4 separate regions of the Homo sapiens genome follow, and regions 1, 2 and 4 are each reported to be linked to region 3. Evidence: microRNA targets listed by miRTarBase, many of them from high-throughput screens and not tested one by one. Region 3 holds a microRNA gene; each other region holds the end of a gene's coding sequence.
Evidence for each region. Region 3 holds the annotated microRNA hsa-miR-4456 (CCUGGUGGCUUCCUUUU, at 1,297-1,313, opposite strand). A microRNA usually pairs through its seed, bases 2 to 8, with sites in the 3' UTR of a target mRNA and lowers its output. Matches are read on the target gene's strand: a 7mer-m8 pairs with bases 2 to 8, a 7mer-A1 pairs with bases 2 to 7 and ends in A, and an 8mer does both.

Region 1 (3,110 bases), not on the chromosome of region 3:
CATGTTTTTATAATGAATTCCTCAACCAAGGGAACTAAGGGACTTGCTGTTTCCTTACTGTCACCTGGGATTCTTTTTGCTGTTTTCTACTTTCTGATTGCTTTTCTTCCTGCTAATTCAGTTTCATCTTCTCTTTTCAGATGAAGCTACTAAACTTATACATAAAGAGGGCCCAGACCACCAACAGCAACAGCAGCTCCTCCTCCGATGTCTCCACGCACAGCTAATGGCAGTACCTGTCTCTTGTGTAGACCTAGAAGCAATCGGTGGTGCCTCTCAGAGACCTTTCCCCACCCCCTTCATCGGCTGCCCAGTCAGTACAAGGAGGCCCACAAATATTTATTACAATCAGTATTTTGGTCCCTTCCAGCTTTTCTGTAGAATCTTACTGGTATTGAATGTAAAGGAAGCAAGGCCTGTATTGCAGTCTTCATACAAAACAAAAGGAATAAGAACAGAAAAGAGCCATACTGAAACATGTCTTGTACAGCCTGCTGAGATGGCGAAACCCTGTGTGTGGGGTGCAGTTTTTAAAAATCAGAGCGCTCTAGCCACTACTTGGTAGAAAGTAGCATTTTTTTTTTCAGTTAATAACATATTTGGGGGTGGGGTGGGGTGTTACTTTGTGTTCTTCCTCCTTAGCCTATTTTCTTGTGCGTATGGTCTGTGTGGGGCCCCTTTCACAGCTGACACCACGAAAGGTGATATATCTTTAAGTTGTGTTCTGAGACCTACTAAAAATGGGAATCAAGTCTTGGCAAGAACAGTCTGAAGATGGCCTTTTAACAAACGCTGGGAATTTTGCTTGTCATATCCAGACTGGAGGCCGACTGCCCTGGCTTTCAGCGTAGAATTGGGAGTGCACCCTGACAGTCTCCTTCCAGCTCTCCCTAATCGACTCCACCGACAAGGTCCCTACCCCAGAGCTTCCATGCAAAGGAATTCTTCAAGTTTAAATCTGGACACAAAAATAAGATAAATGTATGGCATCATTTAGGGATGCCTGAGATGGCAGTTCATGAAGCACAGAAGATAAAGAAGAAGTCTTTCATCTTTACTGCTGAGATCCTTGGGAACACTGTTGTCATGGGGGCTCTGCCAAGACCCTCATCTCTGGGCTACACGGTGATTCAGATTGAGCACCAACTTGTTTCCTCCCCTCAAAGTTCTGCCTAAGCCGTTCAGTTCTAACATGGTCTCAGTTAATCTGGTAAATGGCATCTTTACCATCTTAGTTCTGACTTCTCAGTTTAATGTGGGATTAAGAGCCAAGAAAAGCCTAGAGAGACTGGATATCACAATTTTTTTTAATTTTATAAACTGAAGTAGTTCCTTGAATGTCTGTTGATGAAATAGTCACTGTTTAAGGAAAAAAGTAATTATGAGGTGTAGCAGATTGCAGAAAAACAGGATTAGAAACACACTTAAAAAGAACACACATTTAGAGTCTCTCTTCCTCCTCAGCGAACCACTAGGCCCCCTTTTTAAAAACACCTTTAGAGCCTAATTACTCCAATAAAAGTAACTAGAGGTTTGGAGTCTGGTTAAATAAATTCTGAGTAAAATTCTTAAGCCAAATGGAAATTCTTAATGCAATCATGAGGACTTCTATTGTCTCTTACTGTTGTATTAGATCCTATAAATTGAACTGATTTTTCCATAAGGAAAATGCTTCTTTTGAGATTAATTCTAATAACGTATTTGCTATTGCAGTGCAGAGCCCACTGCAACTGCTAGGACTGAAAGCAGAGGCTGGGTGCCAGAGCACGTGATTCTTAACATCATTTCCACAGACCCCTCTGCCCTGACCCTCTGCATTGGATGCAGGAAGCTGGGAAAGACTGATGTTGATTTGGAAACATGGGCTGAAAATGAAGGCCCCATAGTGCATAGGAACAGTAAAGCCAGGGTGCTGACGTGTGTGTGTGTGTGTGTGTGTGTGTGTGTGTGTGTGTGGTGTTGTGTGTGTTTGTGCGTGCACCCTACACATGTGTGGTACCTCACTGCTGCTGTTTAGGGAACTTGAGGGACGCGTTTCAAGGGGTTGGGTATTACTGACGAGCTTTGGCTCAAAATATAGCAGGACCAGGTCTTTTGTTGATAAGTACTGTTTGTTTATTAATATGTCATTAATGGTATTTCTTTTTTACACTCTACAAGTGAATTAGGGAGTCTCTTGTTGACCCCTTTGTTGCAGGAATGTGCGTCGGGCTAGGTTATCCATGAGTTTCTTTATTCCTAATGCAGTTAGAAAGACCTTTCTCCTTGAGCTCTTTGACTCCCAGAAGGTACCCCAGTCCCCAGTGTACTTAGAAAGGATCTCGAACATTGCTGGACGTCCTCATAGTACTCACAAAGGGCTAGCCTTGAATGTCACTCGCCCAGTCTTCAGTCTCCTGACTTAGAGATACAATCACGTCACAGGTCTCTTGGCCTCAATCTGAAAACTGCTGCCGCCGCGCCGAGGAGACTCGCATGCCGCCACCACCTCACTGGGAGGGCGCCGAGCCCACCGTCGCCCCCTAGACCCTGACAGCTGCAGCTGCCTTGCCTTGCCGCCGCCTCCCTGCAGGGCCCCTGTTCCAATGAAAAACAGAACACAAAAGAGCAGAGCACCTAAGCCTGTCTCTGCCTCCCTGTCTACCGGACTGGCCAGGGCCCAAGACCCCCGCTGCTCCACTGCGGGGCTGGGCGGGCTGACTCCCTGCTTCCTCCAAGCTGCTGCCTCCCCTGCAGCCAGGGTCTGGGCAGGGTGCAGCCGGTCCTCGGGGCACGCAGCTTCCTTCAAGTACACTGTGTGTGCTTCCCGGACCTGCGGCGATGCCACGGGCCTGCCTTTTCTATGCGCCTCACTAGCTTACCACCCTGTGCAGGTAATGCAACTGACTTTGTCTCATCAGTCTTTTTCTTTCCCTGCCACCCTTTATTTATCAAGCGTAATGTTACACTTTAAAGGACAGCAAATAAGAACTTTGTAGAATCCCACCAGGACTTTGCTAACAATAATGTTTGGAAATAAAGAAGTGCTCTGAAAAAATATCAGCCACCAAAATAGTTATGTTGGCACTGTGTTCACACGCATGGTCCCCACACCCCCAGGTTGGGTGGGT
Region 2 (3,114 bases), not on the chromosome of region 3:
TTATTCTCATTTTCTCTAAATATAGGTGTGGGTTTTGCTACCTGGAATTAGAAAATATACCTTCTGGGATCTTCAATATCATTCCTAGTACCTTTTTGCCTAAACAAGAAGGACCTTTTTTCTTGGACTTTAATAGTATTATCCCCATCAAGATCACACAACTTCAGTGATGGAGAAATCTCAAGTTACTGGCTTTTATACTTACCAAACATCAGTTCTTCAAATAAGGACGCAAATCTTCAGGACAGTAAGCAGAACAATCAGAATGGAATTAAATCTCTAAAAACGTGTTACAGTGGAATCTGGTGCTTGTCAGGGTGTTTGGTAAGAACTGTATATAGTCAGAATTACCTAAATCACCTAGAGGTACCGTTTACATGGTTTTGTGTATATAGAGTTGGCTTGCATTTTAGGGGCCATTTTGTATAAAAAGTGCATATGATTAAAATTAGACTCAGTCATCACTGTGAGATGCCTTTGCTAAGAGGATAAAGGAACTGAGACCAGATGAGAAAAAGAAAGGATATAGATTCCTTGAGTGGAATAGTGGGCTAGATTAATATACCGAAATATTTCCATTGTTTCCCTTTTTTGCAGAGCATGTGGAAGTTAAACCTGCTTGATTCTACTATACATCTTGGGCAACTAGTTACCAAATGAATTGTGCCACCATAACTGATTTTAATTTTGCATTATTTATGATTTTAAAATATTTGTTGCCCAGGTGTTATGAAAGAATAAAGCTTTTAAGTATAGACTACCTTAGCATGAAGATGCTCATGCCTAAGAATGAAAATTGTTGAGGTTATCTCCCATTCAATCATGTAGCAAGAACTTAAAGAAATTCACTACTGCAGTTTTTATTTTTAAAAAACAGTAATTGAGATATTGAAGACATTACAATTTAGTTTGTGTGGTCTTTTTTTAAATTGCTGTATCGTTCAGTCTCTTGTGGCAATAGCACTTTGAAGAAAATAGAGAATTTAATATATGGTGATTGGGATATGTAGCATTCAAAAAAAGTGAATTGCCAAGATACTGGTGTCATGTAAATTCCCACTTTACATAAAAACCCATCAGGACAGAATGATGCTCAATATTTTAAAATTCTAAAAATAGGGTGGGATTTTTCATTGTCTCTACTTTATAATTATCAAAACTTATTTTGTATTGCTACTACCTTAAATTGAAATAAAATGTTTATACTTACGGATATTGCATAGTTTAAGTTAGATTTATTGAAAGATTTCATCTGTCGTGTTTCATGTAAATGAGAACAGATTATTTGCATGAAAATATATACTTCAACAAAAATCTGTTCTTTAACAGAGTAGTGGTAGATTATTACACTAATGAGATTTCACTTTGGTAAATACTTCATGCTTTCAGTTTTAGCCTATTAATTTTAGGTGGACAAATTTAACAAGTTTTCTGTTACTTTTTAAAAAGAAAAAATCCAGAACATAAGAACTATATTATGAACACATGATTTGAACCTGTTGTGGTAAAGATCTTGTACAGGATGCAAACTAAAAACCTAATCCCTGCCATCAAATTTATTAGAAGAGACCTATATATGAACAACTTAAAGGCACTGATTTCTATAATAGAGCTCTAAAAACATGCCACCAGTGTATGAATAAGGGAAAGATTAATTTTGGCTGGACCAATATAAAAAATTGTATTTGAAGAATTGATACTTTAACTTGGACCTTGAAGGTAAAGCTTCAAAAGACAGGTTACTGACCATTGAGTGTTTACTATGTACCCAATGTGTATATTTTTCTTTTTAATCTTCCCAATAGCTGAATAAAGTATAGATACTATTATTTGTACTTCTTACAATTGAGGAAATAAGCCTAAGAGATTAAAAGATTTTGCCCAGGGTTCACAAGCCTTCTTCCCTGAGCCCTGATTGAGCTGCTGTGTGTGTCTAATGGCACCCACAGTCACGGCCGTCTAGTCGAGGGAGGGACAAGATCTAGACCCATTGTAGAGGGAGGAAAAACAATCCAGGCCTTTTGGAGGTTCTAAATAACAGACAGACCAGTTGAATTGTTAGAGAGGATGACTCAAGTTTCTAATTCAGCACATGGACAGATGCTCATAGCTTCAGTGAAAGGTAAGTTTTGACACATTAAATTGCCCAGAAAATCCAGATCTGGAATCAACGTGGTATAGTAAGTGAGATCACCCAAAAAGTCAAGAGTCACGTGAACTAAAGATGGTTAAGAACTGATTTGGGGGAAGTTTTTTAGAAAGTATTTCTAATTTAGAAAAAAATACATAGACTAACAGGAGATACAAGAAAACGAGGGTTGGGGGAGGATTAAGAAGCCCAGTGAACAGAATTCCCAGAAGAGTATAATTAAATGTCAGATGTGGTGGAGATAAAGAGGCCACAGTGACAGCAGTAGGGGCAGACTACGTAAAACTAGAAATTTGACTAGGTGATAGTGTGAGAAGGGAGCCCTGGTCAAAAGGTGGTCTGCATCCTTTTCTGGTGTAGGAGACAAGCAAGTGGTAGGCTGATGGGAAAGGGGGATTGAGGCAGGAAACAAGAGAAATTCTTAATGCCCATAAGGAATACTCTAGTGCTACTGACTGACTGCCTAGGCTTTGTCTTTTGTAAAGACAAGGGAAAGAAAGCCCCAGTGTTAGAAAACTCCTTCCCACTTTCATTCTCTGCGAGAAGTACCTAGAAATTTCTAGTTATTAGACTGTATAACTTGACTCTGCTGTAAAAACTTTATCCTAGCTTGGGCTATTTTCCAGATGGTGTTTCTTCTAGGAGGAAAAAGAATTGCCTCAATTGCAGGGAAGTTTTTGCTAATGGTAAGTCAAGCAAGTCTCAGTGTCTTTACTACAGGTAAAAGGGTGTAAGGAGATTTTATGAGAACTGAATGAACCCTGAAGGTCACTAGTCAAATTCAGGTATGCTGTTAAGTGTTCTTGCTTGAGACCCAAATTACAAGACTGGCCAATTTTTGTATTTTTGGTAAAGACTGGGTTTCACTATGTTGCCCAGGCTGGTCTCGAACTCCTGGGCTCAAGTGATCCACCAGCCTTGGCCTCCCAAAGTGCTGGGATTACAGGCATGAGCCCTTGGGCCCA
Region 3 (3,125 bases):
TGGGCGCAGACAGGGCAGGCCTGAGACGGCACCTGGAGGGAGGCTGGCTGCTGGGACACTGCTGGGGACCAGTGCTCTCCTCCCTGTCCGAGCGGGGCCAGGTGTCCCCTTCAGGCCTGGCCTCTGACCCTGGCCTGTGACCCTGTAGCTCACGCACGAGGACATCCTGAGTTGACCCAACCTGCCCGAGTCCAGCTGCTTGTCCAGACTCCTGCGAGAAAACCCAGAGCGGAAGTGAGGACTCAGGTCAGCACCCCCATAGGAAGGGGGACCCGGGGTGGACGCGGAGCTGAGGGAATGGCATTCCTCAGCAGTGCTGTGGGTGGTGCAGCCCCCTCCGCATCCCCCTGGGACCTAGCAGGACCCCACATGCTCACTTCCGGCCCCCAGCTGTCCCTGGCTCCAGCCCTGGCAGGGCCCCTGTCTTCTTGGGGTGTGTGTTGGATTTTAGGTGTGCGGAGGCCACAGATGGTAGTAAGCTGGGCCCTGAGGATGGCTTGGGAGATGTGCAGTGGGGCGGGGCCCTTGTCTTCAAGCCACATCTCCCTGTGGGAGGGCCCTGAACCAGCCACCAGCAAGGCCGTGTGGACAGCTGGGACCACCAGGCTGGACCCCAGCAGAGCGCTGGTTTCAGCCGCCTCCTGCCCCCGGCCCCTGCCTTCTGGGACCCTCACCTCACCCTTGCCCCCGCCTCCCCAGGGGCAGGACCCCTCCTCCCAGTTGAGAACCTAGAGGCCTCCCCGTTGGGGGTCGTTGTGGGGAACCCAGAGGCCAGTGAGCCTGAGGCCTCCTGTCCCTTTGCAGTCGGACATCATTGCGGGCCGCTGGCACGCGCCCTGCAGCCGGCGCTCGGTCCCGTGGGTGTCTGTGCTCCCCTGTGGGCAACGTGACCCTGGCAGCGCCCAGCAGTGCTCAGTCTGCCGTGTGCACACAGAGCCCCGTGCTGCCCGCTCGCCGTGCTTGGGGGGCTTGTGTGAGAGGTGTGGACTGTGGGGCCTGAAATGTGCTCCGGGGGCACCTGCGGCCAAGGCCCCCTTCCGAGGTCCCGCTGCCCCTCCCAGACTGCACCGTCCCGGATGCCATCGCTGGGGCCCCACCCCGCCCACCCCACCAAGACCTTGCAGGACCGAGCCCGCAGCCCCTTCATGTGCTACCCCCCGCCCACCCCACAGAGACCTTGTAGGATGGGGCCCATAGCCCCCCAACGTGCTCCCCCAGGCACAGGCTGTCCTGGGGTCAATCGGGCTGTGAGGGAGACTTGTCTTGTGATGGACGTGAACCCTAACTTCCTCCCAGAAAAGGAAGCCACCAGGTTCATGGGATGTAATACGGAGCAAGAGTCAGGATGCTGGAGTGCTCTGAGTCACCGTTGGGTGGCCACTCCCCACCCGCAGCCCACCTGGGCAGGGCGAGCCAGGGACGCAGGCGACAGCTTTGGGTGGAAGACAATATGCAAATCAGGACATTTTTCCTCGTGGTTCAGAAGTGCTTCCTTGACAGGGCTTCAGCCAAGCCCCAGGCAGACGCCAGAGCCGCAGATGCAGAGGCCCAAACAGCCTTTGCTTGCCAGGAAATGCCCCCTGGATGTTTAGATTTCGGGAATAATATTTTCAAAAATCAATCTCTCATGCGTCTGTTGTTTCGGCTGTGACAACAAGGGTGTTTTCCTTGGATGTGTGCACAGGGCCCCCAGCTCCCTGCAGCAGAGTAAGCCCTCGGCAGAGACAAAGTGGACTCTGTCACAGCCCTAACAAGCCGACCACCTGCTGGCTCGCCACTTCCTAGCCGGGCCTTTCTCCCTGAGTGTTGTGTGTTAGTGATTCTGTGACTCTGCCTTTCTCCCTGAGCGTTGTGCGTTAGTGATTCTGTGAGTCTGGCTTTTCTCCCTGTCCGTTGTGTATTAGTGATTCTGTGACTCTGCCTTTCTCCCTGAGCGTTGTGCGTTAGTGATTCTGTGAGTCTGGCCTTTCTCCCTGAACGTTGTGTGTTAGTGATTCTGTGACTCTGCCTTTCTCCCTGAGCGTTGTGTGTTAGTGATTCGGTGAGTCTGACTTTCTCCCTGAACGTTGTGTGTTAGTGATTCTGTGACTCTTTCTCCCTGAGCGTTGTGCGTTAGTGATTCTGTGAGTCTGGCCTTTCTCCCTGAGCGTTGTGTGTCAGTGATTCTGTGACTCTGACTTTCTCCCTGAGCGTTGTGTGTTGGTGATTCGGTGAGTCTGACTTTCTCCCTGAGCGTTGTGTGTTAGTGATTCTGTGAGTCTGACTTTCTCCCTGAGCGTTGTGTGTTAGTGATTCTGTGACTCTGCCTTTCTCCCTGAGCATTGTGACTTAGTGATTCTATGAGTCTGGCTTTTCTCCCTGAGCGTTGTGCATTAGCGATTCTGTGACTCTGGCTTTTCTCCCTGAGCGTTGTGTGTTGGTGATTCGGTGAGTCTGACTTTCTCCCTGAGCGTTGTGTGTTAGTGATTCTGTGAGTCTGACTTTCTCCCTGAGCGTTGTGTGTTAGTGATTCTGTGACTCTGCCTTTCTCCCTGAGCATTGTGACTTAGTGATTCTATGAGTCTGGCTTTTCTCCCTGAGCGTTGTGCATTAGCGATTCTGTGACTCTGGCTTTTCTCCCTGAGCGTTGTGTGTTAGCGATTCTGTGAGTCTGACGCTGCACAGGTGGGCGATGCTTTGCTCCGGCCGGCTCACCTCCCCGATGAAAGCCCGCTCAACGGCATCTGCAGGGCACTGCCCACCCCACCGCGGGGCTGAGACACCTTCCCTAGCACGGCCTCGCGTCTACAGAAAGCCGCTGAGAAGGCAGGTGGGGTCCGGCGCTGCCCACCGTTCTCCAGCCGTGCTGGCCACCACTGGGCTCCCAGACCAAGGCCCATGGACTGTCCCCCATGCCTGTCTACCGTGAATACACTCATTGCTCAGTCTCTAACTTCCCTATTTAGAGACTGAGTATTATACACTCAGAAAAATAACAACAGCTCACGGCTGCTGGCCCCTTGCGGGTCCCTACCCGGGTTTCATCTGATACCTGTGGGAACCTGGTGCGGCCAGCCTGGCATTCACCTCCACTCCTAATCCCATTTTAAAACAAGGAAGCGGAAGGCTTCAGTGGCCGGCCATGG
Region 4 (3,000 bases), not on the chromosome of region 3:
AATATTGGTCTGAAATATTTGTGCTAACGAATGTTGTTACCTGAAAATAACAACACTCCTCTCCAGCAGTTTCAGGGCATGAGAAGCACAATTATTGAAATCAAGACTTTACTCAGAGAATCGACAAGGTGAGTCTAAGGAACTATAAAGCTTTGCAGGATTTCTGCTACTCTCAGTGCCTAACCGCTTAAAAATTAAGCATTTCTACAAAAAGGTTTGTTTTAAAGTATCTGAAAACAGTCATCTCCAGTAAGTTGCCCTCCCACCCCCAACCCTGCCTAAGGGAAAAGCCACTGAGGTTTAGGAAAAGCAGATCAAGTAAGATATTAATCACATAGAAAAAAAGTAATCTTTTGTTTTGCTTTTTTTTTTTTTAAAAAAGGTCCCAGGAATATACAGCAATCTCGTAAGGAACTCTAGTGAAATGTAATCGGAGGACTGAAGGAGGGTGCTCTGGCAAAAATAGATCTATTCTAACGTGTTCTATAGAATAACAAGTTAGTACCATTGTCAAGGTGCATGTTCCGCACCATACAATTTTTGTTGTTGGTTTTTTGTTTTGGATTTTAGCTAATTATAATCTTCAAATCACTGCTAGCGAGTGGTCCAAAACTCCAACAGCCACCAACATCGGGACCCAGCAATTTCAAACATTCACTTTTTGTTTTGAAATTTAGAAAATATTAATAAAACAGCATCATAGTAAAAATATTATGCAAAAGTCTGGAACTGCTCACTTGATTTATTCCTACATGAATGGGGTTAAGTTGTAACGTTTGATTAACCTTTTACTAATGCCTTCTTCCTCCATCCCCACCAGGAATATGCATTTTTGAGCACATCATTCCGATGCTTTGCTACCCTCTTTACCTGCTTTGGAAAAAAAAACAAGAAGAAAAACCTCTATTTTTTTTTCAATCCTGTTAGTATGTTGTACATATTTTCCAGCACCGGAACTGAAGTAATATCTACAACCATGAGAAGCTAAACCTAGTATGAATAGAGTCATTTTTTGTATGGCTATTACGTCAAATTACAATTAGAAAAAAAATCATTACAATTCAGTCAAGTATAAATAAGAAAGCTAGATAAAACCATGTAAACTGTCACCATTTAGAGATCTAATTCAAAAGCTTCAAACTCGAACTAGCACTGTCAAAATTCCGCCAGTTTGAAAACCATTAAAAATTATTGCTGGAATCCAATAATTAAAATTTGGTAGTTTGTGCTGTGACGCAAGAGTGGGGAAATACTTTGTGCTATAGAACAAATACCCTGTAAAATCTGTAGCCTCAGACTAATTTTGATTTATCACTTTGCATCTGTTGCTAGGAAACAAGACACTGTGAATGTCAGGTGGTTAAGTCAATATGTTGAATGTTCTAAGCCAGTTAATCCACTTGGCGCTGCTTATGTATGGTTGGTTTTATGTTCAAAAGCAACAAAACACAAAAAGGAAACAGAGACTTGCAGGTGGATCTATGACTGAGAGTCCCACTCTGGTCAGGCATACCTCCCTCATCATTGACTCAGTACCTCCTAAACAACACAAACTCAAAATGGCTCTAAAAACCTGCAGTGCCAATCAGGCTGTGCATAGCAATTGCAACCCGTCCAGCCAATCTGTGATGGATGTAAAAGGTCTGTAGCTCCAAGTCCACATGAAGTGAGTGTCTTCAATGTGTTTAGAATAGTGAAGTAATACTAAGGTCACTTCTGAATAATATTTTTGTCTTTTTTTTTGTTTGTATGAACAATCCATTGGTCACTTAGACCCCTATGTAAAAATAAAAGAATCCTCAAGGCATGAAAACACCAGTAATCTGTAATCTGCAGGACTCTTCCCCTGTCTGGGAAAATATTTGCCACAATTTGCCTCAAGCAAATTCTTCTTGGTCACTCAAGGCTAAGAAAAAAATTCAGATTGTAAGAGTTGTAATTTTTTCTCTCTCTCTTTTTTTTTTTTTTTTGCCAGCAAACTACCATTCTGGTGGCAAATATAAAAGTGCAGAATATATGGACCACGAGGCCGAGCATACACCACTAACAATGGTACATCTGCCTGCCCAGGCTGCTTGGGAGTCTCTGGAACAGGCTTTTTAATATTTATTCTACAATATAAATGTAGGTATAACCTATTATATAAACCATCTTAAACTTAAATCTCCATGTACAAAAAAGACTAAGAATATCTAATAATAACTAGTGCAGTGCGTCAGTTTTTGTTTTTTTTTTGTTTTGTTTTGAAAGAATAACTAGGTAATATATGAAACTAGTTTCACACTCTCTGGTTGGTAAAAGAGATGCTGGGTGAGCTACAGTAAAGGCAGCCTTTTACCAAGTTACCACCTATTACCGTCAAAAGCCTTCAATAGAAAGCAAAGCTCCAGGATCATTCTGTTTCTGCTCAGTATCAGACAGATAACCTTACCCTCAAAGATTCTGGGTTCTGAGAGAACAAACTGGCCCAGGATGCTAACTTCTGCTTCAAGTGAATCTGGGCCGTGTGGGGCAACAAGCACTTGTTTGCAGTCTATATTTTCCACCACTTGGACTCACTAGCATCCCTCGGTAAAGACAAGGCTAGGGTAGTAGGTAAAGCACAATGTTTTACAATGAAAGGGCGCTTCACTGGTCAGCGCAGGAAATAAGTACAGGAGCCTGCGGCATTTCTTTTGGCTGTCCATCATGGGTGAGCGGAGTTGACCTCTGACCTCTGTAAAATAAAAGGAAGAAAAAGTCACTTATTCAGCATATGTTATTAGAGACAGGAGAGGACGATGAATAACAAGTGTGTTCCAATATCTTGTTTAACAGTTACTGCTGTTACTTACATCATTTAATGAAAACTGTTTTTGCTTTAGAGTTTTTTCTCTTCTGTCCCCTTCCTTATCCTTTTTTTCCCCTTCCTCCTTCCCATTCTGTCTCCCTTCCTAAGATTTTATATCTGAATTCCCCTCATACAACTCAACAGCATACCCTCTGGCCTCAAACAACTAA

Region 1: the mRNA of CLASP1 is a reported target of hsa-miR-4456. Seed matches in the 3' UTR shown: 7mer-m8 at 2,983-2,989.
Region 2: the mRNA of CAPN7 is a reported target of hsa-miR-4456. Seed matches in the 3' UTR shown: 7mer-m8 at 1,626-1,632.
Region 4: the mRNA of BBX is a reported target of hsa-miR-4456. Seed matches in the 3' UTR shown: 8mer at 1,987-1,994.

Annotation. Positions count from the first base shown.
Region 1 is chr2:121,337,978-121,341,087 of GRCh38, reverse strand. CLASP1 (cytoplasmic linker associated protein 1) reads left to right here. Exons shown (of 41, transcript NM_001395891.1): 41 at 141-3,110. The coding sequence ends at 227. Among named protein-coding and RNA genes, the nearest start is that of TFCP2L1, 54 kb to the right of the region's middle.
Region 2 is chr3:15,251,091-15,254,204 of GRCh38, forward strand. CAPN7 (calpain 7) reads left to right here. Exons shown (of 21, transcript NM_014296.3): 21 at 26-1,826. The coding sequence ends at 170. It overlaps SH3BP5-AS1 (SH3BP5 antisense RNA 1), which reads left to right and starts at 3,094. Exons shown (of 3, transcript NR_046084.1): 1 at 3,094-3,114.
Region 3 is chr5:534,565-537,689 of GRCh38, forward strand. MIR4456 (microRNA 4456) reads right to left here and starts at 1,318; the gene lies at 1,276-1,318.
Region 4 is chr3:107,805,086-107,808,085 of GRCh38, reverse strand. It overlaps BBX (BBX high mobility group box domain containing), which reads right to left. Exons shown (of 18, transcript NM_001142568.3): 18 at 1-2,716. The coding sequence ends at 2,629. Among named protein-coding and RNA genes, the nearest start is that of LINC00635, 71 kb to the left of the region's middle.